Regions from separate parts of the Homo sapiens genome. Here regions 2, 3, 4 and 5 are each linked to region 1. Evidence: fine-mapped expression QTL. A gene starts in region 1. Each other region holds a variant in brackets. All regions are shown on one strand. Distances are from middle to middle.

What was found. PIP is the estimated chance that this variant, and not a neighbour inherited with it, causes the effect. A credible set is the group of variants that fine-mapping cannot tell apart.
Region 2: its variant is the best candidate, but not a certain one, in a credible set for the expression of MICU2 in thyroid (GTEx, PIP 0.79).
Region 3: its variant is the best candidate, but not a certain one, in a credible set for the expression of MICU2 in whole blood (INTERVAL, PIP 0.76).
Region 4: its variant is the best candidate, but not a certain one, in a credible set for the expression of MICU2 in whole blood (GTEx, PIP 0.53).
Region 5: its variant is the best candidate, but not a certain one, in a credible set for the expression of MICU2 in whole blood (INTERVAL, PIP 0.55).

The regions. Positions count from the first base shown.
Region 1 is chr13:21,601,070-21,606,069 of GRCh38, reverse strand. MICU2 (mitochondrial calcium uptake 2) reads left to right here and starts at 1,900. Exons shown (of 12, transcript NM_152726.3): 1 at 1,900-2,131. The coding sequence starts at 1,922. RefSeq lists enhancers at 1,717-1,786, 1,568-2,186, 2,187-2,806 and a silencer at 1,957-2,166.
Region 2 is chr13:21,580,425-21,585,424 of GRCh38, reverse strand. All of the region lies in intron 1 of MICU2 (mitochondrial calcium uptake 2), which reads left to right. Among named protein-coding and RNA genes, the nearest start is that of MICU2, 21 kb to the left of the region's middle. The variant A/G (reference allele first, on the strand shown) is at 2,671.
Region 3 is chr13:21,481,835-21,488,466 of GRCh38, reverse strand. It overlaps the pseudogene H2BP6. Among named protein-coding and RNA genes, the nearest start is that of ZDHHC20, 26 kb to the right of the region's middle. The variant G/A (reference allele first, on the strand shown) is at 3,281.
Region 4 is chr13:21,489,948-21,494,947 of GRCh38, reverse strand. It overlaps MICU2 (mitochondrial calcium uptake 2), which reads left to right. Exons shown (of 12, transcript NM_152726.3): 12 at 1,595-2,257. The coding sequence ends at 1,699. Among named protein-coding and RNA genes, the nearest start is that of ZDHHC20, 33 kb to the right of the region's middle. The variant C/T (reference allele first, on the strand shown) is at 2,153.
Region 5 is chr13:21,537,944-21,542,943 of GRCh38, reverse strand. It overlaps MICU2 (mitochondrial calcium uptake 2), which reads left to right. Exons shown (of 12, transcript NM_152726.3): 3 at 3,256-3,287; 4 at 3,567-3,642. Among named protein-coding and RNA genes, the nearest start is that of MICU2, 64 kb to the left of the region's middle. The variant G/AG (reference allele first, on the strand shown) is at 2,640.

The DNA.
Region 1 (5,000 bases):
TCTATTACGTGCTGGGCATTGTGCTAGGTGCTAGAGAAACAGGGAAAAGGAAGACATCTCACCCACAAGGATGTCAAATTGTGGGAGAAAGACAATGTTCTTAAATATGCTACATGTTTTAATGGGAATCTAAACTTATCTTGGGCTTAAGGCAATACTGAGTAATAGATGCCAGGTTTCATTAAATACCTAGAGGAACTGTGTGAGGCAGTTAGAAGTATACACGTAAAGACTGTGGTTTCTGGAAATCAAGAATAAACTACAAGGTAAGACATCCAGGGTGTCCAAAATATCCTGGAAGTCCTATTATCACCAGGAAACAAGCTAGATGTCAATAGTCCAGAAAAGCAGGACATGTGCCAAAGCTACCAGAGTTAGCAGAGGTGAAAAACAGTCCAGAGGTTGACAAAGTCAGGCTAGATACAAAAAAGCAGGAAAATCTCAGGTTAAGATGGGCTAGTGATCTGGAATCATGGACATTCAGTCAAGCTCATTTGTGTTCACAGGGCAGAAGTAAACCAAACCTTGACCACAGTAAACGCACATCTGTCATGAGCCTACCATGTGCCAGGCATTTGGCTAGTCACTTTATATAAAATATCTCATTTAGCTTCCCCACCCCAAACTGTAAGAGGGTTGTTCACAGATGAAAAAATTGAGACTCAAAGAGATTAAATACCTTACCCCAAATAGCAGTGATCATCTACCAAATCGTGAGTTATTTACAAATGAGAAAATGGAGACTCAGAGAGATTAAATAATTTGCCCCAAACCACAGTGATCATCCTGGTAGAGCTAAGATTCAAACCTTGAGGTCTGGCTCACAAGTCGGTGAAGTGAGGCTCATCTCTCTACTTCCTACCTGGGAAGGCACACTGAAAAGTAAGTCCAGAAGCTGACGGAAAAGTGAGGAACCTCTGACTGCAGATTAATTTAGACAAGCGGGCTAAGAGAAAGGGAGCAAGGATTAAGGGCAGATAATAACAAAGGGATCCACGGAACTTCCACTGAATGATCAAATTAGATTTCGTGTGACAGGTTTTTGTTTTTGTTTCTTGAAGTTTTGTTTTGTGCAAAACTTCAAGACAGCAGTGATTATGTGATTAGGAGTCTTGGCCCCTTTGATGTTGGCTCCGTTACTGCATGCCCAACTAAAGCTTCTAATAGCTGGGGACATTTCAGAGGCTGAACAAAGAGTTTATTAAAAAGAGTTACTCAGGAAAAGTGAAGACCAAAGAATGGAGGATTGGAGGCTGTTAAATAAAACCAAGTAGTCTGCCTCAGCTACATCACTTATCACCAATGCAACAGCCAGGACTGGAGGTATCGTTCTAAATCTGCACTGGGGAAAACCTCTGGGTCCCTGATGATAGAGACATGGGGCTGGTGTGCTGCTGTCTCTGACTTTTAGTTCTAGGTAGGATAAGAGCTACTATCAAACCTTTTGTTGAAACTGAATTTAAATTCATTATAAGCAAATAGTGAGGGACTGAAATAAACAGAATGCCTTGTCTGAGAGTTGTTTTAGCAGAAATGAAAGAACAGTCAAGACTATAAGCATAGGAAGACATGAACAACACAGATGCAGAAGAGACTATTTCAAAAAACGTTTCACAGTTTTACAAGGTGAAAAAATGAAAAGGAGAAACCTGCCCACACAACCGAGGGCACTATCTTGTTTTGGACTAGGAAGTCATATTATACTGTCTTGATACTCTTCCTGTCATCCCATCCCCACAGCCTTAGAAGGCAGCCCCGGAACCGAAGGCCACCTCTTGCGGCTGCGAGCGTCGCCTCAGCAACCGCACCCACGGCGCAGGCCCGGTAGGCGGGGCGGAAGCCTGTCGGATGTCGCGAGAGTTCCCAAGCGGTAGGCGGCGGCGCCGGGAGAGAAGCGCCGCCTAGCTGCGCTTCCGCAAAGATGGCGGCGGCTGCGGGTAGCTGCGCGCGGGTGGCGGCCTGGGGCGGAAAACTGCGACGGGGGCTCGCTGTCAGCCGACAGGCTGTGCGGAGTCCCGGCCCCTTGGCAGCGGCAGTGGCCGGCGCGGCCCTGGCAGGAGCAGGAGCGGCCTGGCACCACAGCCGCGTCAGTGTTGCGGCGCGGGATGGCAGTTTTACAGTCTCCGCACAGGTACAGGACTAACTCCTTCTGCTAGCCCCAGTCAAGCTCCTCCCTCCCCTGACGCCCTTAGGCGGGGAGTGGTTTGGCTCTGGGCGGCTCTCCCGGAGCCGTGGGTGGAGGTGCCGCTGCGGATCGGAGCGCCCTGCGACTGGTGGGACTCGCTCCTTCCTGGACCGGCCCCCGGCCTGAGTCCCCGAGGGCCTTCGAGGCTGGTGACCGGAGATTCTGCCTCCCTTGGGAGAACCCCGCGGACGCTGAACACCACGGCCCACAAAACTGGCCGCACTAATTTAGTGGTGATGAGTGTGGGCGTGTCTTAATTCGAGGCTCCTAATTCAGAATCTCACTGCGCCTCGCCTCTTGCTACCTCTCTGGTCAGTGAAGTGGCATTCACATCCGCAGGTGGTTTGCGTCCAGTTACCCCTGTGGGATATACCTTTGTTAAGCTTTGCAACTAAGTTTTACGATCTTTTCTTTGTATAGCATGATGAAGTTCTGTCGATTGCTTTTTTAAGTCACGAATGTGTCAGCCACAAAAATTAACCAGTTGATTTCCAGATTTTATTATCAACTTTAAGGAACATTATTGCATGATTATAAACCTTAATATCTTAGTGGACCATAAGTTCTAAGCAAAAATTGCTCCTAAAACCTCCATCTATTAAAGACAAGAGTCCGCCGGGCGCGGTGGCACACGCCTTTAATCCCAGGGCTTTGGGAGGCCGAGGCGGGTGGATCTCCTGAGGTCAGGAGTTCGAGACCAGCCTGGCCAACATGGTGAAGCCGCTCCCCACCCCAGCCCCGCCCCCCCGGTCTCTACTAAAAAATATAAACAATTAGCTGGGTGTGGTGGCGGGAGGCTGAAGTAGGAGAACCGCTTGAATCCGGGAGGCGGAGGTTGCAGTGAGCCAAGATCGAGCCATTGCACTCCAGCCTGAGCTACAAGAGCGAAACTCCGTCTCAAAAAAAAAAAAAAAAGATTCAAGTTCCCTATTTCAGGATAAATGATGTTGTAACGCATTTGAAAATTTGAATGAGTAGTGCTTTAAAATTTTTGTAGACTTAGTAAGTTTTTACATATGAGCTTTTTTGAAAATTGAAAGTAGTAGTTTATTATTTTCTTTTTTAGATTTACATTATGCCTTTCTAGCGAAAAACTCAAGGAACATTCAGATACAACAAAAAAGAGAGGAAAGAAGGCCTTGTGAGTTAAAATTAAGTATTGGCAACTGATATTCCTTATTTGTATTAACATACATTATAATTATATTGTAAACATATATAATGGAAAGATCTATTATCTAGTGTTTTTATAGCATTTTTGTGAATCTTGTGCCAAGGAGTTCAGTGTATTCATCATTAGTTTCTCTCCCCTAGATTCATCCTGGTTTTTTTGTTTGTTTTTTGTTTTTGTTTTTGTTTTTTTTGAGAGGAGTCTCGCTCTGTCGCCCAGGCCGGACTGCAGTGGCGCTATCTCGGCTTACTGCAAGCTCCGCCTCCCGGGTTCACGCCATTCTCCTGCCTCAGCCTCCCGAGTAGCTGGGACTACAGGCGCCCGCCATCGCGCCCGGCTAATTTTTTGTGTTTTTAGTAGAGACGGGGTTTCACCGTATTAGCCAGGATGGTCTCGATCTCCTGACCTCGTGATCCGCCCGCCTTGGCCTCCCTAAGTGCTGGAATTACAGGCGTGAGCCACTGCGCCCGGCCGATTCATCCTGTTTTTAAGACCCTTAGGTTAATCTTCTCCGGAGTATCACTTTAACCACACAGTGTACCCTTCTTCAGAAACCCTTCTTCAGTGTCTCATTTTGCCAAGAGTAAAATGCACTTTTTTTTTGTTGTTGAGATGGAGTCTCTGTCACCCAGGCTGGAGTGCAGTGGCGTGATCCCGGCTCACTACAACCTCTTAACTCCCCGGTTCAAGTAATTCTCCTACCTCAGCCTCCCAAGTAGCTAGGATTACAGGCATACGCCACCACGTCCAGCTAATTTTTTTTTGTATTGTTAGTAGAGCCGGGGTTTCACCATGTTGGCCAGGATGGTCTCGATCTCCTGACCTCGTGATCCGCCTGCCTTGGCCTCCCAGAGTGCTGGGATTACTGGCGTGAGCCACAGCGCCCGGCCAAAATGCACATTTTAAAACTTTGTCTTTCAGAGCCTTTTATAGTCACACTCTGACCTGACACTACTCAGGCACCTTCCCACTAAAGTGATTCACTCACTATCCCTAGAACAAGACTTAAATACCGCTCACCCGCCAGCTGCAATTTGTAGACTCTTGATTTCACTTATCCATCTAATTGTTTTTTTTTTTTCTGGCCCACTTCTAATCTTTCTCCTTTGAAATCCCTGACTTGATTCTAAAAGCTTCACACTAGTGTAGTTATTTTGGATTCTCTTCCCAACTCTCAGCTCTCCTTCCCTGCAGCTTTGTAAGTTTAATCTTAGCTAAAGTAATACAGAAACCATTTTATTATCAATCGTTTTATAAGGTCTGTTGGCATAGCATTTGCCTGATCTGCTATTGGACCGAGACAGTGGTTCTCATCCTTTTGCCACCACGGTGGACATTCCTTTCAGCATCAGTGGCTGAATACAGGAAGGATTGAGAGGACCTATAGGTTGAAAACTTTGCCTTCGCCTCAGTGATTTTGATACATTTCCCTAAGAAGTGGGCCTACTACCACTACTTTAGGGACAGGTGTGCATAGTTGAGCTAGATATATACCAGAATTTTGGCTTGTGATGAATCTTTCATTGCAATAGAATTTTATGCATTAATATAGTTACATTGGTATTCCAAGTTGGTAAACTCTTCCTGACGCGGCCCTATAATAATAGTGAATATGTCCGGCCGGGCCTGGTGGCTCACGCCTGT
Region 2 (5,000 bases), 21 kb after region 1:
GGTAGGCCAAGAGCAGTAAACTTTATAGCAACATACAGAAGTTTAATAACCATGAAACATTGTAATCCCAGTGAAGACTAAAGCTTTCTTGCAACAGTAAAGGAAGAATGCAAAGAAGTTTTTATACTTTACTGCCTCAGGTAAAAATATCTGTAGAAACAGGTGATGACAAAGCTATGATGTTAATAAACCCAAATGGAAGTCAAAAATCAAAGTTGTAAATGGCTAGATTATGAAAAGAGAGATGACAAAGTTATACCCTGTAATTAGATGTAATTTGTGCTTTTGGCATAGCTGTTTGTCCTGCATGAATGAGAGGTTGTCTTACATTCCTTCATTGTGTAATAGGACAGTAGTTAACGATCCTACTGTAAATCTATACAGTGACTCTTCTGGGGGAAAGAACAACAAATTGTAACAGCAAAGTATATTTAACCTTTTCTTTTGCATTTATATTGTTTAGTGGAATCCAAGTAAATATTACTGTTTGTTCTTGTTCTATAAACCATGTGTTTTAGTAGCTAATATATACAAATTATGCTTCTGTTACTGTGAATTTTGGGGTTTTATGAATTACAACAGTGCATAAACACACCATAAGCCACTAATAGTAGCAGTATATGAATTTAAATGTTTTATTTATAGTTTAAAAAGCAGTAAATATTTGGTAGAGTAAATTAGTAGTAAATATATTGTCTCAATAACTTCATAAATAACATTATTAAATGTTTTCAGAGTATAAGTAATTTCAATATAAAAATAATAATGAATCATATTTTTTAAGTATAGCCTGGACTTAAAATTTTCATAGACATCTATGAAAGTTCCATAGATATGTGGTTCCATAGATAGTTCATAGATATTTCTAAGGAAATAAGGTGTTATAAAATCTGAAATTTATCCACATGGATATCATTAACTTTGTGTGTTGTGTACTAGAAACTTGTATACCTTAAGATCGCAGGCATCTTTGTCCTCAGTCCCTCATCACTTAGCTGTATGTACCCTGGAAATGCAAACCTTTTTTTTTTTTTTTGAGATGGAGTCTCGCTCTGTCACCCAGGCTGGAGTGCAGTGGTGTGATCTCGGCTCACTGCAAGCTCCGCCTCCCAGCTTCACACCATTCTCCTGCCCCAGCCTCCCGAGTAGCTGGGACTACAGGCGCCTGCCACCACGCCCAGCTAATTTTTTGTATTTTTAGTAGAGACGGGGTTTCACCCTGTTAGCCATGATGGTCTCGATCTCCTGACCTCATGATCCACCCGCCCCAGCCTCCCAAAATGCTGGGATTACAGGCGTGAGCCACCGTGCCTGGCCAGTGCAAACCATTTTTAAAATTAGGCAAAATGAACCCTTAAATATGAAAGCACAATGTGTTTCTACAAACTGTTCCAGATATTTCAAAGGAAAATATGAATAATGCAGCACATCTACTGTTTGAAATTATGTCATTTTTCTTATTCACTAGTATATGCAATTAGAAGATTATATACAGTGAGAAGCTGTAAATGGGTTGATTTCTATGTTTCTTAAATGTCAGGAGATTAAATCACACTGTTGTTTTAAGGACAAAAACTTTTTCAGTTTAACTTGGTCATAATTGCCCAGTTAAGAAACCAGCTCAAATCAGCACATTTTCAATATGGCTCTGCCTCCATTCAGGCCCAGTCCTGGGAAGTTCTGGAATGCTTGGAATGCTCCAGGATTGAATTTCAGGTCAGGGAACTGCTCTTTCGGTGATGGTAGTAGTACTGCTTTGACTGTTGCTTTAGCGGGAGCCCCATGCATGGAGCTGTGACTGCCCTACTGCAAAGGAAAAACAGGAAACAGCTGAGCACTTCCCAAAGGCTCATTTAATTATCAGATGATAACTGATCCAGCAGCCTACATATGTTGAAGTATATATGAAAGACTTGTCTGTCCTAGTATTTCCTATTCTCAGACATACCAAGTGTAAGATACTTTAATGGCAAGCCAGAAAATAATGATTATGAGGAAGCATTGGGGTTCAACCAGGAAACCGTTGCAATACAAAGGCAATCAGTAGTGTATTTTACAGAGACACACTTTTATTTTTTAAAAAACTTAATACTGACTGATCACTTTTTATCAGTGATTGAAGCATGTTTATTTATTTAATACTGCAACTTTTTTGTTTTTGTTTTTGTTTTCTACTTATATAGACAAGGTCTCTGTCGCCCAGGCCAGAGCATAGTGGTGCAATCATAGCTCAAGGCAAACTCCTAGACCCAAGCAGGCCTCCCTCCTCAATCTCTCGAGTAGCTAGGACTACAGGCATGAGCTAGCCCAGCCTTTTTGTTTTTAAACTAGTACTTTGTATTTCATTAGTAGACTTGACCATTAGGCAGTGCTTAAATCCATCTTAAATTATAGTTGTAAAAAGATTGCTTCCTGAAACACTGAAGAAATGGTTATAAATGAAGTTTCCACGCTGCAAAAGAAATAGCACTCGAATATAAATTTTTCTTTTTAATTCTCAGCAAGGCAATGTACTTCTACAGAAGAGTGCGCCCTTACAGATGGAACAATGGTGAGCGCACACTTGGACAAGGGAGGGGAAGGGGTTCTTACCCCTGATGCACGTGGCCCCTGCTGCTGTGTCTTTCCCCTATTGGCTAGGGTTAGACCGCACAGGCTAAACTAATTCCA[A/G]TTGGCTAAAGAGAGTGACGGGGTGAGTGGTTTGGTGGGAAAAACACTTATGGCAGAGCAGGAAATTGGAATGAGTCAGTGTGGAGAATGAGCAGGTAATTAGAATGAGTCAGGGTGGAGCAGGTAATCGAAAAAGGTTGTTTTAGAAGGAAGTTAAGTTTAAAAGTAGAAAGCAAATAATTGAACGTACATATTCTTTGAAGAGAAATTTAGAACTCATATCTAACAAAATAATAATTTATGTTTACTGAAATTCTTTGATATATATCAGGAAGGGGGCTAGAGCTGTTGCTTGTTTCTCAATTCTTTTTTAAAAATTACTTATGTTGGCTTTTTTTCTTATTGAAATACATGTATATTATAGAAAAATTAGGGGAAAAGTCAAAAGGAAACTTGTAAAAAACCATCCTCTTCTTATGATGACTTGAGAAGACTAGTTACTGTTAAAAGTTTTGGCTATTGTATCTTCAGTAGATAGAGTTTTTATAGAAATAAAGCTATTTAGTGCTAAAGCTAAGACATGATTATTGTAGTTCCACATTGTGTCATTAGAGGGAAAGTAAGCTGTCCAGGCCCTTTTGGAGACTAGCCCTTGCCCCTGTCTCCTTGCTCTCCAGTCTCTTGTCACCCGTATTTCTCTTTAGTTGTTTCTCTACTAAAAGCTATAAGTATTTATCATAGTTAATGTGATGGCCACTTACTTATATAGAGCAGGGGAAGGCACCCCGCAGTGGCTTTGTTGCCACATCCAGGAAAAGGTATAGTGAAAACAAAAATCAGAATTATGCAGATATGCATGTAAGGTTTTGTTAAAGACCAAGCTTTTATTAAAAAATTTTGTGTAGCAATGATTTCCTGTAGTTCTTTGCTTTATTTGTGCTAGATAGCAGTTGTGTGTATTCTTTATTTTAATTAATCTGCTTTAGCTGGTGACATTTTTAGACGACCTGGAATTAATAGATTTTACATTTCATACTTAGTCATGTTGGGTAAGCTCTTTTCACTTAAATTTTAAAAGAGACCTTTACTACTAGATATCAAAAAGGGACTGAGTCAAATATTCATCTCAGCTGTTTAAACTTCATTAACTATATACATTATTCTAACGTGCACTACTTAAAATTGAGACATTTTATTTTACTAATTATTGTATTTTACCATTTTATCATTCATCTTTGTCATTTTTCCTGATCTTTGAATAGGGTGTGAATCTGATTATGTGGTAAAAGTTACATACTCTTTCCCAAAAAAATGCACAAACATGTTTCACACAGATTTCAGGGAGTTATGAACCCCAGAAGTATGATTATGTCATGTAAGGTTAACAACCTCTGCTGTAGGCAGAGTAGTGGCTCACACCTGTAATCCCAGCACTTTGGGAGGCCAAAGTGGGTGGATCACTTGAGGCCAGGAGTTTGAGACTAGCCTGGTCAACATGGTGAAACCCCATCTCTACTAAAAATACAAAAATTAGCCTGGTGTGGTGGTGCATGCCTGTAATCCCAGCTACTCAAGAGGCTGAGGCACGAGAATTGCTTGAACCCAGGAGGTGGAGGTTGCAGAACCTCTGCTCTAAATTTTCAGGTTACATCCTTGTCTCTTCCTAGTTCTTAGTATTTATCCTTCACATAAAATGTTTCAAAGGCTAGATCTAAACTTATTTTCCACTTCACTGCTTTGATTATGTCACTATATTACTGCTAATTTTTACCTGCTGTTACCTTCAGATCAGGTAATTGTTGATGTTTGCCTCTTGCTCTTCACTAGTTCATCTCTTTTGTTCTGACTCTGTACATTCTCTATTCTAACCCAGTTAGCCCTGTTTTACTAGCTTATCCTGTTTACACCTTTATAAATGGAACAGACACCTTTGTCTGTTGCCACTAACCTTCATTGTTCAAGGGAGCTTCTTCAAGTTTATTCATCCTCCAGCCTGTAAGTGAGTTGGGGTATTCAAGTTTTCACAGCCTAAGGAGTATACCCATAATTTCAGGAATATTATTAATACTGGTAATAATATTTGTTACTTACATGAAGTTTTATAAAGTTATAAGTTAAGAGACTATCTAAACAATAGCCCATAAATATTTAGAAACTAATTTTAGACTAAAAGTGACAAAATTCATTTGAGTTTTCAAATATTTAAGAGTTACTCTTAAATATTTAAGAGTACTTCACAAGCAATTCAAGTTTGGAGATTTAGGTTGCCTGGATCATTGTAGAATATCAGGCTCTGTCTATTCTAGTCTACAAATGTCTGCTCCCCTCTCTTCCCAAGATCTAACTAGGATTATTCTTGATTATAAAGACACAGGAGTAGATTCGCCAAT
Region 3 (6,632 bases), 120 kb after region 1:
TTCAAGACCAGCCTGGCTAACATGGTGAAACCCCGCCTCTACTAAAAACATGAGATTAGCCAGGTGTGATGGCAGGCACCTGTAATTCCAGTGACTCAGGAGGCCAAGGCAGGAGAATCGCTTGAAATCAGGAGGCAGAGGTTGCAGTGAGCCAAGATTGCACTCCAGCCTGAGCAACAAAGTGAAACTCTGTCTCAAAAAAAAGGCATAATGTAGGGAATGATGTCAGGGAAGATAGCAGAGCAGGAGGCTCCAGGAATCTGTCCCTTCACCTAAACAACTATTGAACTGGCAGGAATTGTCTTATTTTGGAACATTTCTGACATTTGAGGGAGAGTTTGATGAAGTTGCTAGTAAATTTTGGTGAACTTCAGCCTTTTGTGATGTAGCAGCAACAGCAAAAAGCCTGCCACCCAGCATCAGGAAACTGTCAGGGAAGCAGCCCACATTCCTGGGGCAGCTTCCTGGAACCAGTGTGAGCACAAAAGACCTTATCCTCCAGGAGTGGGGGTCATGTGTTCTGCTAGCTGCTTGCTGATTTTGATAAAGTGATGAGGGGCCAGGCTGGAGGCCAACCATTTTTTAATGCCCACTTCACAAGCTGAAGCAGCTTCCCAGCCACAAGAGATTTAAAGAGACAGGATATCTTCCCTCCTTCTTGAAAGTCAGACATTTAAGGACATTTTTGTCAGGTTACTGGCTAACTGTAGAGATAACAGAAAAGAAACCTCAGTAGCCACACACAACAAGGAAGATACATTGTTTGGAAAAGGCACAAATAGGAATGGGTCCAGCCCACAACAAGCAAAAACAAGCAATCCCTAAGGAGTAGAATTAGATTCCAGAGTTACTACAACATAATGCTCAGAATAACCAGTTCTCAACAAAAAATTATAAAACATGTAAAGCAACAGGAAAGTATGATCCATTCACAGGATATAAAGAATTTCACAGAAACCATACCTAAAGAAGACCAGACTTTGGAATTATTAGTCAAAGATGTTAAATCAATTGTTTTAAATATGTTCAATATGTTTTCTAAAGGAAACCATGAATAAACACTAATAGAAATCAAGAAAACAATGTCTGAACAAAATGAAAGTATAAATAGAAATTATAAAAAGGAGCCAAACAAAATCTGCAATAACTAAAATGAAAAATGCAATAGAGGGATTCAACAGCAAGTTTGAACAAGGAAAAGAGAGGACTGGCAAAATTGAAGATAAGACATTGAAAATTACCCAGTCTAGGGAAAAGAAAGAAAGAGTGAAGAAAAATGAAGACAGCCTGAGGAACCTATGGGACCTCATCAAGCATACCAAATACACATTATAGGAATCCCAGAAGGAGAAGACATAGAGAAAGGAGCAGCAAAAAATTTGAAGAAATAATAGCTGACAACTTCCCAAATCTGATTAAAAACATGAATATATACATCTAAGAAGCTCAATGAACTCCAAGCAGGAAAACTTTGAAGAGATACACACTGAGACATATAGTCAAATTATCAACTCCCATAGACAAAAAGATAATTTTGAAAGCATCAGGTAGAAGTGACTCATGCGGCCAGGTGCGGTGGCTCATGCCTGTAATCCCAGCACTTTGGGAGGCTGAGGTGGGCGGATCATGAGGTCAGGAGATTGAGACCATCCTGGCTAACACGGTGAAACCCCATCTCTACTGAAAATACAAAAAATTAGCTGGGCGTGGTGGCGGTCACCTGTAGTCCCAGCTACTCAGGAGGCTGAGGCAGGAGAATGGCCAGAACCTGGAGGCAGAGCTTGCAGTGAGCCAAGATCACACCACTGCAGTCCAGCCTGGGCGACAGAGCAAGACTCCGTGGAAAAAAAAAAAAAAAAAAAAAAGTGACTCATGCATGTACAAGAGACCTTCATTAAGAATGACAGTTTATCTTCCACTAGAAACCATGGAGGCCAAAAGGCACTGGATGACATATTTAAAGTCTTGAAAGAAAAAGACTGTCAACCGAGAACTCTATATACAGCAAAACTATCATTCAAGAATGAAGGAGAAATTAAGATATATCCAGATTTAAAAGACTGAGTCTTATTACCAGTACTGCCCTACAAGAAATGCTAAACGGAGTGCTTCAGACTGAAATGAAAAGACAATAGACAGTAATTCAAAGACAGAAGAAAAAAAAATACTACTAAAGGTAACTTCATAAGTATATATAAAAGCCACTGGGCCACAAATATGTGGAAATTAACAACCCACTCAAACAACCAATGCCTCAAAGAAAAGGGAAATGAGAACATACGTTGAGACAAATAAAAATGAAAACACAACAGCAAAACTATGAGATGCAGTGAAAGCAGTGCTAAAGAGGGAAATTTTTTTTTTTGGGGGGGATGAAGTCTTGCTCTTGTCCCCCAGGCTGGAGTGTAATGGCACGATATCGGCTCACTGCAACCTCTGCCTCCCGGGTTCAAGCAATTCTCCTGCCTCAGCCTCCTAAGTAGCTGGGATTACAGGCGCCTGCCACCATCCTGGCTAATTTTTGTATTATTAGTAGAGATAGGGTTTCACCATGTTGGCCAGGCTGGTCTCAAACTCCTGACCTCAGGTGATCCGCCCACCTTGGCCTCAAGTGCTGGGATTACAGGCATGAGCCATCGCGTCCAGCCTTAAGACAGAAATTAATAGCTATAAATGTTTACATTTAAAAAGAACAATAATCTCAAATCAACAACTTTACACCTTAAGGAACCAGAAAAAGAACAAATGAAATTCAAAGATGGAAGGAAATAAAGAAAACCTAAACTGTGATTTAATGTATTGACAGAGGCTCCTTACGGACAAGTTTGAGAGTTAAAAACTCCAGGCTGGGTGTGGTGGCTCACGCCTGTAATCCCAGAACTTTGGGAGGCCAAGGTGGATGGATCACCTGAGGTGGGGAGTTCGAGACCAGCCTGACCAACATGGAGAAACCCCGTCTCTACTAAAAGTACAAAATTAGCCGAGCATGGTGGCACATGCCTATAATTCCAGCTACATGGGAGGCTGAGGCAGGAGAATAGCTTGAACCTGGGAGGTGGAGGTTGCAGTTAGTTGGTTGAGATCATGCCATTGCACTCCAGCCTGCGCAACCAGAGCAACACTCTGTCTCAAAAAAAAAAAAAAAAAAAAAAAAAAACCTCCAGAGGGCCCTGACATGGTGGCTCATGCCTGTAATCCCAGCACTTTGGGAGGCCAAAGCGGGAGGATCACTTGAGGTCAAGAGTTCAAGACCAGCCTGACCAACATGGGGAAACACCCC[G/A]TCTCTACTAAAAATACAAAAATTAGCCAGGCGTGATGGGTTATGCCTGTAATCCCAGCTACTCAGGAGGCTGAGGCAGGAAAATCACTTGAACCCGGGAGGTGGAGGTTGCAGTGAGCTGAGATTGCACTACTGCACTCCAGCCTGGGTGACAGAGTGAGTCTCTGTCAAAAAAAAAAGAAAGAAAAGAAAGAAAAGAAAAGAAAGAGAAAGACAAAGAAAGAGAAAGAAAGAAGACAAAGAGAAAGAGACAGACAGAAAGAGAAAGAAAGAAGACAAAGAAAGAGAAAGAGAGAGACAGAGAGACAGAAAGAGAAAGAAAGAAAAGAGAAAATGCTCTTGTATAAAGTACCTGCATACCCTTGAAGTAGTATAGTGTTATTTCAAAGAGGACATGGACCCCCATCTCTACAAAAAATTAAAAATAAAATAAATTAGCCGGGCATAGCGATGCATACCTACAGCCCTAGTTACTCAAGAGGCTGAGGCAGGAGGATCGCTGGAGCCCAGGAGTTTGAGGCTGCAGTGAGCTGTGATTGCACTACTGCACTCTAGCCTGGGTGGCAGAGACCCTGTCCCCCCCCATCCCACCCCACCTCCCCCAAAAAAAAGAAGGAAAGAAAGAAGACATGGGTTAGTTATAAACATATACTGCAAACTCAAGGACAACCACCAAAAAAGTAAATAACTTCTTTAAGTTATGTTCAAAGGCTCCCATAACAATAAAATACAAACCTTCACCAAGGTCTCAAGGTTCTTCCTGCCCCTGCCCCTGACACTCCCAACCTCACCTTCTCTCCTTCCCACTCTTGCTCAACCACTATGGCCATCTTGTTTTCCCTGGAACCCCTCAAGCTCTCTCCTGCCTCAAAGTCATTGCCTTGCTGTTCACCTGGCCTATAATCTTCCAACTCTGGGTCTTTCATAGGACTCACCCCTCTGCATCAGTCAGGTCTCTACTCAGTTATCCTTGTGAAAAAGACCATCAGGGACATACTTCTGGTGTTTGAAGATGCCTGAGCCAGCCAAGTCTGCTCCCTCCCTGAAGAAGGGCTCCAAGAAGGCGGTGACCAAGGCGCAGAAGGTTGGCAAGAAGCGCAAGCGCAGCCGCAAGGAGAGCTACTCTGCTGAAGCAGGTCCACCCCGACACCCGCATCTCTTCCAAGGCCATTCGTTAATGACATCGTTGAGGGCATCGCGGGCGAGTCTTCCGGCCTGGCGCATTACAACAAGCGCTCGATCATCACCTCCAGGGAGATCCAGACGGCTGTGCGCCTGCTGCTGCCCGGGGAGCTGGCCAAGCACGCCGTGTCGGAGGGCACCAAGGCCGTCACCCAGTACACCAGCTCCAAGTAAACTTGCCAAGAGGAGACAACAGCCTTTAGACATATCTTTTCCAACAGTCGTCACTGCTGGACAGTGCTTCATCTTACAAATAAACCAATGAAAAATGAGTGATCCTAGAAGAAGATAAACGGAGGTATTTTAAACAATCAAGGAAGGACCAATATACACCTGGCTAAGAAAAACTAGCCCCTCTTTTTTCTGGGTATAAAACAATTAAAATGTTCTTCATAGAAATTTATGAAATGAGAAACATAAAGACAAAATTAAAATAACTCCTAGTATCTCCTATTCTTTTTATATGTATATCATATATATTCACATTCATATATACATATATCTCACATCATGTATCCCATATATATAAAATAAACTTAGGTGTCATGCTATATATATATTTAGATAACTAAATATGCTTAGAAATAATTTTTAATGGATGCATAATTTATGGATATATTGATAAGTAATTAGTTCTTCATTATGGACTATTTCAATTGATTCCCATTTCTATGCATTATAGATCATACAGCTCACACATCTTTGTACATAAATCTTTGTTCAAATATTATTTCCTAAGGATATTCATGAAGTGGAAATACTAAATCAAAAGTGAAAAACATTATCTAAGATCCTTAAATATGCATTGCCAAAAATTGCTATTCAGGAGCATGCCAATTTATAATCCCAACATAATGTGGAAATTTCTGTTTTATAACACTCATATTTACAATAAATTTTTAAAAGCATTGTTAACGTAATAGGCCCCCAAAAAGAAAAAATTTGAAATTACATTTCCTTATTTAAATTAATGACTCTATTAGTGAGGGTCATTTTCCCATGTTTTTTATTAGCCATGACCCTATAAGAAATAAACTGTGCTGCAAAATGATAAACATGATTTCAATCATTCCATGGGAAGGCACTATATAAAGAATAATACCTTAGGTTAAGTCCAAATAAATAATATTTATTAGGTGCCTCTTCTGCAGAGGATTCTGAAGGGATAATAAACTGCATTTAGCTGCAGGTAACTGAAACTACTTTTACCTACATTGTCTCTTATAAACATTGTAACTACTCTTCGAGAAAGTGTTTACTATGGACTGAATTGTCTCCCCATCCCCCCAAATTCGTATATTGAAGCCCTAAACCCCAATATGACTGTATTTCTAGACAGGACTTGTAAGAGGTAATTAAGGTTAAATGAGGTCATTAGAATGAGTTTCTAATTGGATAGGATTTTTGGCCTTATAAGTAGAGGAAGATTCTGCACTTGGTCCTCCAAATTAAATAATTCATTTAAAAAAAGTGGAAGAGAGAGATCTCTGCACACACACACTGAGGAAAGGCTGTGTGAGCTCACAGTGAGAAGGCAGCACTTACACACAAGAAAACTAAACCTAGGAGAGAGAAAGTTAAACTTATCCAAGGTCGCAAAAGCCAGAAACGAGTGAGGTGAGAAGTTGACCTTGTTCTCCTCAATCCAAGGCCAGGACTCCTCCACTCCACATGTAGATAGCCACCTCACAGTCAACAACCAAATGTCCCCAGAGTCAGCATTAGACCAAGATGTCTCACCAGGAGACAAATGTCTCATCTTGAATAAATATGTTCTAACATATTTATTGTTTACCCATGGAAAATACTGAACCTCAGGAGAAATAAAATGCAAAGTATGTACAAAATTATGTTTACTACCTGACACTGATATAAAGCCTAATGATATCCTTATAGTCTTGGAGGGGTTTGTATATGTGGTGAAACAGGTGCTCACACAGTGCTAATAGACTGTAAATTGGTCTTAGAGAGAAAAATAAATAAACTGGAAGGAGAAAAAAAAAAAAGACCATAACAAACCAATCCCCATTGTACCCCACCCTCTTTCTCTATGTTGTTTTTCTTACTAGAACTTGATCATCAACTTAAAATGTGTATATATACATATATTTGTATATCTGTTTATATCTGCTTATCCTATTAGAATGTAAGTTCCATAAAAGCAGGGATT
Region 4 (5,000 bases), 110 kb after region 1:
AAAGTGACTGTGAGCTACGATCGCACCACTGCACTCTAGACTGTGCAACAGAGCAAGCCCTTGTCTCCAAAAAAAAATAATTTTTTAAAAAAGAAATTACTATTCAGAAATGTAGCCTAGCTGGACATGGTGGCTCACATCTGTAATCCCAGCACATTGTGGGAGGCCGAGCCGGGTGGATCACTTGAGGCCAGGAGTTTGAGACCAGCGTGGATAACATCATGAGACTCTGTTTCTACAAAAAAAGGGAAAAAAAATCATAGCCTAGGATTTGACTAACTACATGTAATTAGATATATGTAAATTCAAATCCCACCTCTACTGTTTATTAACTGCTTAATCTTGCAAAGCCACTTAATTTTTTTTAGTCTCAGATTCTTGACCCATACCATGAGGAAACTAATCTACCAGAAAGCATTATTGTTAGAATTTGATGTAAAATACTTAGTATAGTGGCTGAGATTATGAAGTAAATTTCACTATTAGCATTATTCACTCAAAGTCACATATGAGTCTATACTTGTGGGACAAATCAAATTCAGATTTTTGTTCAGATTAGAATGTGCTAGAAGCACTCTCAGAAAAGAAGTCTGCCAGGGGAAGACTAGGGTCCAAAGAGAATCTACATGGTTGGTAGGTAGGCAAGAAAAAAGGAAGGAGAGAGAGAGAGAATATGGTACTATTCATGAAAATAAAGCTATTTACAACTTAGAAAAGCAATTCCATTTCCTGCAACAAACATAACTTAGGGAAAAATAAATATTATTTTCATTAGCAAACATATTAATATTTTATAAACTTTGCAGTTATCCAACACCCATAAATATATTCCGGGAAATTAAGCCAGTCTTTTCAGTTCACAATTGAGTGTACCTGGGAGTCTCCTTGCCCTTTCTCAGAAGACATTAAAAAGAAAAGCTGTAAATCAGTCATAAGAAAAAGAACATATATAATCTGGAGTAGAATTTTGCTTCCACTTGGCTAATTTTCATCAGTGCTATGCTCCTGTGGTCCCCCGGATCCAAATATTTCCTAACCTTTACCTTTTCATTTTGTTGAGAGTAGTAGTAATCCACATGTATTTTTAGCTAACAAAACACGTCCATGAATTAGATTATTTCTTGAAGCTTTTCATCAAATACTTTGTGGCCTTTTTTTTTTTTAATTTTAGCCAATGTTAAATCAAAGCTTTAGGCTTATAATTGTATTCTACATAGCTAAACAAAGTTCACCAGAAAAAAAGGGAAAGATTATAAAACATTATAAAAGGAAAACATTATAAAGTAATTAAATTTTAAAGCCAGTATGTGAAAGAAGAGATGGCCCAAAGTCTTCATTACCCTCTTAGAGAAGAAACTCCATTAATGTGTGCTCAGTCTGGTTCCACTCCCTAGTAACCTTAAGCATAGTTACATTCACTTTTTGTCTTTTACCCCCATTTTCAGTTCTGTTGTGATCATCTTTTACAACATAATTCACCCTCAACTATTTTTGGAGGAGTGTGGGAAGGAAATAAACAGTAACGTAAAGTATATATGAAATCATGTTTAACCTTGAAGACAATGACCCCTTGATTTTTACTTTCGGTTAACAGGTACCACAACATCAGAGTATACAAGAATACTGGAAGTGTGTGAAGAAAGAAAGCATTAAAGGAGTAAAAGAAGTCTGGAAACAAGCTGGAAAAGGTCTTTTTTAATAAAAGATATAATAGTATGGCAATTATATTGTTCCAAATGTCAAAATTTGTGATTTTTTAGAAGTACTTGCTATTTATCTTCTTAAGTCTTCATTGATATTCTGTGTGAAATAAGCATGTCTTGTACTTGCTTTCTGATTCATAATTTTATTAAAGAACTTAGTAGAAAGAAAAGTAAGTATAAAAATAGATATTGGATTCTGTCAGAAGGCCTAGATTTGAAATAATGTTTTGTACTTCGGTAAGATGGAAAACTTAGTGATTCACTGATTTCTTAGACACTCTAATATGATATGCTTTCTGGAAGGATAAAACAAATACATATGGGAAAAAGTACTTGAGACCAAGGCCAGCATCAATTCCAGACATCTTCATGTTCCTAATAGGCTAAATGAAGTTAAAAACTTATTTCAGATTTTTCTCATCTGTACCTTATATCTCATAAATTTATTG[C/T]ATATTTTATGTCAGTAGCTTAGCTGTTTATTGTCTTTAAAATAACATGTAAACTTCAATGTTCTATCTGGAAGCAGAATAAAATATTTACATAGATACAAAAAATACTGAGGTGCTTTTTATTTTACATGTGTTTTTAAAACTACTTTAAAAAAAATTGTAAATACTCTCATCCCTTGCCAGCCTCATTAGTTCTTAAAACCTGGTGTAGCTGGGAGAAATTTTGACCCCAAGGTCAGGGGCTCATGGGATATATTAGGTTGTGGGAAACAAATGTTGCCAGAAGGTAATTGGCATTAAACTGAATATCAAATGGCATTTTTTAAAACCTGGTAAATAAAAATTATAAAAAACTTGTGTCTCAGACACACAATTTAGAAAATTGCAAATATATAAAACCAGTTCCATTCTCTAGAGAACTGGCTGATCCCAAGGCCGTGACAGGGAAAGTCCAAGATAAGCCTAGAATATATTGTGCCTAAAAGTAAAGAAGGGCTCACAAAATGGTGAAGAGTCAGAAGGACAAAGCCAGCTTGAAGGGGCTGCCCCTGTCAAATCTGGTTCAGTTTGAGGGTCAGAATAATTAATGTCCGTAATAGATTATAGCCTATTGAATGAAATAAGAATTCATGAGTTTACACCAAAAATTAATGAGGCCAGAGAAACCTCTCCCTTATTGTTGAAGGATAATGCCTTGAAATATGTTAATCCACTAAATTGAAAAACTCTCCCTCACAGTTTAATGATTGAAATCGACAAGAGGCAAAAGCTTTTGTCCATTTATTACAAAAAATATTTTGCTCCTGATTCAAAAACAAATTTGCTCTAATGAATTGTTTTATAAATAATTGCTTATAAAATAATTTTTTCTCTCTCTTATAAAACCAAAAGATAGGCAATGCAAGAAAGTATAAGTATGAATGAATGAATCCTCCACCATTTTCTCTGTCAACCACAAAAATGCTGACTCCTCACCTGTCTTTCCAGATGCCCTTATGGGTCAAGATTAGGGGCACAAAAATCCAAAAATTAAGATGGTTTCTCATGCCTTCACAGGCTTCACTTTTTCAGCCTCACCTGGCACTGATTTGTCTGCCCCACTTTCCACAGCATTCCATGAATACTGTTTTGTGCTCCAGCGACATAAAGCTCCTGGCCTTTCCTCATGTACACCATGTGCGTTTCACATACCCCTACCCCTAAGCTTGTTACACATGCCATTTCCTTCTGACAGCGATGCCTTTCCCTCGCTATCTTTTTTTTTTTTTTTTTTTTTTTTTGAGACGGAGTCTCACTCTGTTGCCCAGGCTGGAGTGCAGTGGCACGATCTCGGCTCACTGCAAGCTCTGCCTCCTGGGTTCATGCCATTCTCCTGCCTCAGCCTCCTGAGTAGCTGGGACTACAGGCACCCGCCACCACGCCCGACTCATTTTTTTGTATTTTTTAGTAGAGACGGGGTTTCACCATGTTGGCCAGGATGATCTTGATCTCCTGACCTCATGGTCCACCTGCCTCGGCCTCCCAAAGTGCTGGGATTACAGGCGTGAGCCAACGCACCCGGCCCCCTTGCTATCTTCTTGGTGAAATTCTAGACATCAAGGTGCTACCCACATACCAAGTTTGTATCTACCAAAGTATTAAGAGCAGGAGCACTGCCTTAGTCATCTTTATATACCAGTCTAAGCTGAATCCCTGGCTTACAGTAGGCATCCAACAAATATTTGTTGAACAGAAGGAAAGAAGAGAGGGAGGGAGGGAGGAAAGGAGGAGATTTGGGATGGGAGGAGCTAGTAAAGTTCATGAGTTAATCAAGAAGTATGCCAAAAACCTGCTAGGCCCCAAGCATACAGTGGTGAAATAAATGGTTCCTGCTGTCATGGAACTTGCAGAAGGTGAAGACTGAAAACTAACCAGGAAACATTTTAAGTATATATATACAATTAAAAACTAAGATTTAAAAAAAAAAAAGTGATGTTAGAGATCAGAAGACTTTCTTACAACAAGAGTATTTAGAGGGTTGAGGATAGTTTTCCATTTTTCAAGGCTAAAAGGAAATTACTATAACTGAAAAGATTTCTGAAAACGAATAATGTTTGTCATGTCATTACTACAAAAGTACTTGATCCCATTTGAAAAAAATAGGGATAAATATATATCAAATAAGCAAACTAGATTTGCCAATATCTCCTAGGAGTACGGAGACATTTACCTTGAAAGCAGCTGGACTTCCTAAAAATCTAAACTGCATGAATCTTCAGTCATTTGTTTCTTTACTATCATTTTGTTAAATAAATGATCACTAGGTCTGATATTCTGGTAGATAGCTTGTATTTCTCTGCTTATCCCTTCAAGGTGGGAGACAGTTGCAGGGGGTATCTGAGCCCTGCCTTCACGGATCTTCTCCTCCTTGCCCATCCCCTCAGGAATCTCATCACCCCTCTGGCTTCTGTTCTCTCCTCACCTTCAGGCCCAGTTGCTTTCTAGATTTCTCCATTTGGTTTGTCCAACTCAAGCACATCCAAAACTGACCTGATTATGTCCCCCTCTTTTTCCAAACCTCATTTCTTCACATGTCTTCTGCCTTAGTGAACGGGTCTCCTACAAGAAACCAACTAGGAACCAGACAGTCATCCCGGATCCTCACTCCCTTACTCCTCTATAGTCAATCATGTCCTGTGAATTCTGCTTCCTCAAAATCGCCAGACATGTGCTCCACCTTACAACACTGTTGCCACTGCCTTAGTGCAAGCCCTGATCATTCATTACTTAGATGATCTCCGTGGAATCCTAACTTGCCCTTTGTCCGGCCCCTTGTAAGGCACAGCAATTAAGCATCCAAACTCTGCTG
Region 5 (5,000 bases), 63 kb after region 1:
TTTTGTAATTATGATTATCAAATAACTTTATTTTGGCCAGGGGCAGATTTATTGGATCTATAAGAACACTTAATGTGTATCAATGCAGCTTTACTATTTTAAGTATTAAAAGGCTCACTTACCTATAACAGGATATGCTGTATCTGGATTTTACTTCATAAATCCTCTGTAAATAGTGAAAACCACATGGTGGAATCTCTAATATGGGTGGAATCCTTTTAAAACATTTTACTTCCTGAACCAAAATTCCTAGTGCTTCAAGATCTATGCCGCCTCCTACAAAAACAAAAACCCCTAATGTGTTTTTCTTGTTTTCATATTCATACAATGAAACATTACAACCTCAATTCTAGATCTTTTTTCCTGTTTTTTGCCCCATTCTGTTATTTTCATACATAAGTGTGTGAATACATATCAAATAGCTGTGAAAATAATGAGACTGAATTTTTTATTTGTGTGAATGTGGAAATAGCCAAAGAAAGAGAGACAGGAGTGTCCCCCTACCCTACATTGAAAAAAACAAACTCAAACAAAAACAGAAGGAAAAATTAGATTATTTGCCAGATGGGTTTTATCCTTAAATAGAAAAATATTGTCCAGAAATACTTAGGTGTATTTAATATGCTCTTGCCTTGTTACTGCTGTAGGGAGAAAAAAGGTCATGGCTCCTGCTGTGCAGGTCAGACCATGGACCTCTTATTTTGCTGCTCAGCCATGAACAAGTAGTATAGAGTAAGCATCCTGGGTGAGACAACTGTCTACCAAGAAAACCCTGCCAGAGTGTTCTGGATTAGAAACACCACAACCTCTCATAATACTCAGGGAGAGGTGCATTAACTGAAGAGAAAGAGGAAGCAGGAGAGAACGGGTGTTCATTCCTAGTATCTTTGCCTTGTCTTTTTTTTTTAATCTAAAAATGAATTTTATGTAAGAGACTAGCTTCTAAACTTTTAATCAAAAAGTTAATTTCTTCATTATTTTCTAATTATTTATTCCATTTGAATTAAAAAAATTTAAAAAGATGTTTTTACAACTTAAACTGCATTAAGTATCTGGTTTTCTCCTTTTTGATGATCAAATTTTTATATACATGTCAAATAGAACTTGTAATCTACATTAAATAATGAAAAGCAGCAAAACTGCCTCTATAATCGTACCATGCATAATTATTCAGTTTTGTTAAGTGTTGAAAGTAGGCCGCAGGCTCTTTTTACTACTGTCATGGAATTCAAAGAGTCTAACACCTGTTTTTGAAAAATCTATATGAGATATGAAAATAAATCCTTCAAGGCCCATATTGTTACCTAATTCCTCTTGCCAATTTGTTTTACATGTAAAGTGGGGATATAATAATTTATCCAAAAGACAGGGACCTGGATAAGAAGACATTGTGAAATCTTTTCTGATTTGTTTATTCAGTTACTCATTCAACAAATATTTAAATGTTTAGCACTGACCTACATAAAAGTAAGACAGGTATGAAATCTGCCTCCATAGATTTTATAATTTACTTTTTACCTGTAATTCTGGTGTTATATTATTCAATCAATTCATGACTTTATTGTGGTATTTCATTCACATAGTATTGAATTTTATTGGCTTACCTGTTTGGCAGCCAGACTTCTAGCTGGAGGGAAGCAAACATTACCTTCTTTACTCACTCAGTTTCAAGTAGAAGGATTTTTTTTTTTAACAGATTTTTGAAAGACCAAAAAGGAATCTAGCCTTCAAACAGATAACACCCCTTAGAAATAATCTGATTTCTAAGAAACTCTTAGACACCATCCATTTTGCTACCTTAAATTCTTGATCCTCTTCTGCCTTCAAAATGTCAATCATTGCTTTCTAGACTACTTTAAGTTGGATGTAAGGATTAATCCGCTTTTTAAAAACAGATAAGACTAATTTTAGTTGTCTAAAAATAAAAGGGTACATGGTAATGACTATTTGTGGCGTAACTTTAGGACAAGCATAGAAATAATGATCAGTTTCTTTTTTAAGTTAATTGACTATGTAAAGATAAGTAAATACATGTATTACACAGTTTTTTGGAGTTCATTATCAGCATTATATGACTACGTATTATATACACATTCACTCACTTAGATTTGTCCAATAAATGGTAATTTTTATCTATTTGATTATCTGATACTATAACAACACCTAACAGTAGAATCTGGGGCTCTTTGTCTTTGGCTGGCACATAATAGTTTCTCCAGTGAGTAAAAATTATCCCAAAATAACAACACCTAAGCTTACAAACATAGTCATAGATGTTTCTAAAAAGTATGTAGTCATATTCACAAGTAATGTTTTGACTAATAATGTAAAAATAAAATCCTGACAGTTTACTAATACCAAATAATAGAATTTGCCCTTGTAGATTTATCGTCCAAATTAAACAACCCAAACTACAGAAAAGCCACATCTAAAAGCACTCTTTTTTAATGTGCCACCTGAATTTCTACAGACTGCGTAATTGTGCTGAAGGAACTTCATAGACAAGATAATTTTGAGAGCAATAAGTAAAGTTAGTGCTGTATATTGCTTATGTAAGAAACAAAATAAAACATTTTTCAGTTTTGTTCTGGATGTTTAAAATGATTTGAGGCTATCATCAGAGTAAGTCCTAAAAAAAA[G/AG]AAACAATGTAATAGCTTTAGAATTATGGTGGATATTAGGAAAATGATGTAGGCAGTAAAGAGGGTGGCTGAAAACCTGAAAGAATTTTAAATCTCTGTTATCCAGTAGGAAATTATTAAAAATAACTACTTTAGAATGGATGGTTATGTTGGCTAGACTTTTACATTTGACTGGAGAGTTATAAGCCTAAGAGGACTTTCCAGAGTTCAAAAAAAGGAAGCTTTATAAATCATGAGTGTTTTTTTCTAAATCAATGAAAGTAAAAAGAGAGTGATTTTAATAATCATGTGAAGAAATTATGTTTGACAAGAATTAATAATATGATTCATACAACTAGGATAAATCATAGATGGTTATATACAATTTCATATGTATGAAATAGGGTGAGTGAAATTGAAAATGGATCTTGTGAAAAACTGTAGTGTCTTTGTGTTTAGTCTTAGAATTCTCTGACTCATGATTATGGCTTAAGGATATTAGCTAAAATTACAAGCCTTTGCTTTTTAAATAAATATTTAGTTGTTTGTTTTGTCTTTTAAATAATTTTCTTTCTTAGTGCAAGTTGAGTTTTACCAAAGAATATGGATACTAAATAATGTTTCTTATTTGTTGTAGGTAAAACTTCAGTCAAGAAGCTGACAAAAAAGGTAAGCATCATGTTGTGGGGGGCAGGGTTTGTTTTTGGTAAGATAGAAAATGAACTTTTGGCCGGGCACGGTGGCTCACACCTGTAATCCCAGCACTTTGGGAGGCCAAGGTGGGCGGATCACGAGGTCAGGAGATCACCATCCTGGCTAACACAGTGAAGCCCTGTGTCTACTAAAAATACAAAAAGAAATTAGCCGGCTATGGAGGTGGGCGTCTGTAGTCCCAGCTACAAAGAAAATGAACTTTTAGAAGTTTAATTTTAATATGTGTATTCAAAGGACATCGAGGATACACTGTCAGGGATCCAAACAGCTGGCTGTGGATCAACTTTTTTCAGAGACCTTGGCGATAAAGGTAATTTTGGTTTGTTGTTAAATTTCTAGTTATGTGTTTTATTTAACTGAAGTATTATTAAGGAATTAAGGTATGAGATTTGTACCATGTTATTTAATAGGTGTTTTTAAAACATGAAGTAAGGAGGTAACTTTTTCAAAGTCTTTGAGCAATTACAGATAAATTATTAAAACATCAATGTTTTAATGGATGAGGGTATGAGGCAGAGTATCTAAAATAAAAGATGAGAAGCCTTCAAGGGCATCCAGAGGAGCCACACCACTTAGGGGAGTGGACGGAAAGAGGTCATGGCAGAGTAATCAGAGAGGTAGAGGAATGCCAGGAGAGTGTTATCACAGAAGCCAAGCAGAGAAAGTGTTAAAGAAAAAGGGAACTTATCAAATGTCAAAACCAAGTAAATGTAGGGAGTTGAGTGAGCTAAGGACTGAGAAGTATCCTCTATATTTAGCAGCTGGAAGTGTTTGACATTTTAACAAGTACAGTGGTGCCTTGTTATCTATGGGGTATTGATTCCAGGACCCCCCTTGGATACCAAAATCCAAGAATGCTCAAGATCCTGATATAAAATGGCATCATATTTGCGTATAACCTACAAACATCCTCCCATTTAGTTCAAATCATCTCTAGATTACTTATAATACCTAATACAATGTAAATGCTATGTATATAGTTGTTATATTCTGTAACTCTATTTATTTGTATTGGTGTGGGTTGTTTGGGGTTTTTTTTTTTTTTTTTTGAGACAGGGTCTTGCTCTGTTGCTGGGTTGGAGTGCAGTGGCGCAGTCATAGCTCCCGGCAGCGTCAAACTCTGGGACTCAAGCAGTCCTCCTGCTGCAGCCTGCTGGGACTACAGGTGTGCACCACCATACATGGCTAATTTTTTTTAATTTTAGTATAGACGGGAGTCTCACTACATTGCTCAGGCTGGACTCAAACTCCTGGGCTCAAGCAGTCCTCCTGACTTGGCCATTGAAAGTAATGGGATTACAGGCATGAGCCACCACACCAGACCTTTTTTTTTTAATATTTTTGATACACGGTTGGTTGAATGCATGGATGCGGAGGGCCAACTGTACAGATCAGTGATAGGATGAGATCTAAAGCCAAGTTGCAGAGCACTGAGACGTGAGGGCGGATATGAGAAAAGTAAACGCAGACCTCTTGAGAGACATGGTCATGAACAGAGGAGTTAGAGGGTAGTAGCTAAGGGTAGAGAAAAAAGGCCAAGAGAATATTGGTTTATTTTAGGTGGTGAGCATGTTTCTTGTTGATGAGAAGGAGAGGTGGACAATACAAAGGAAGTATGAATAGGACAAAATCCTGGAAAATAGGAAAGAAGGGATTGTCTTCAGAACA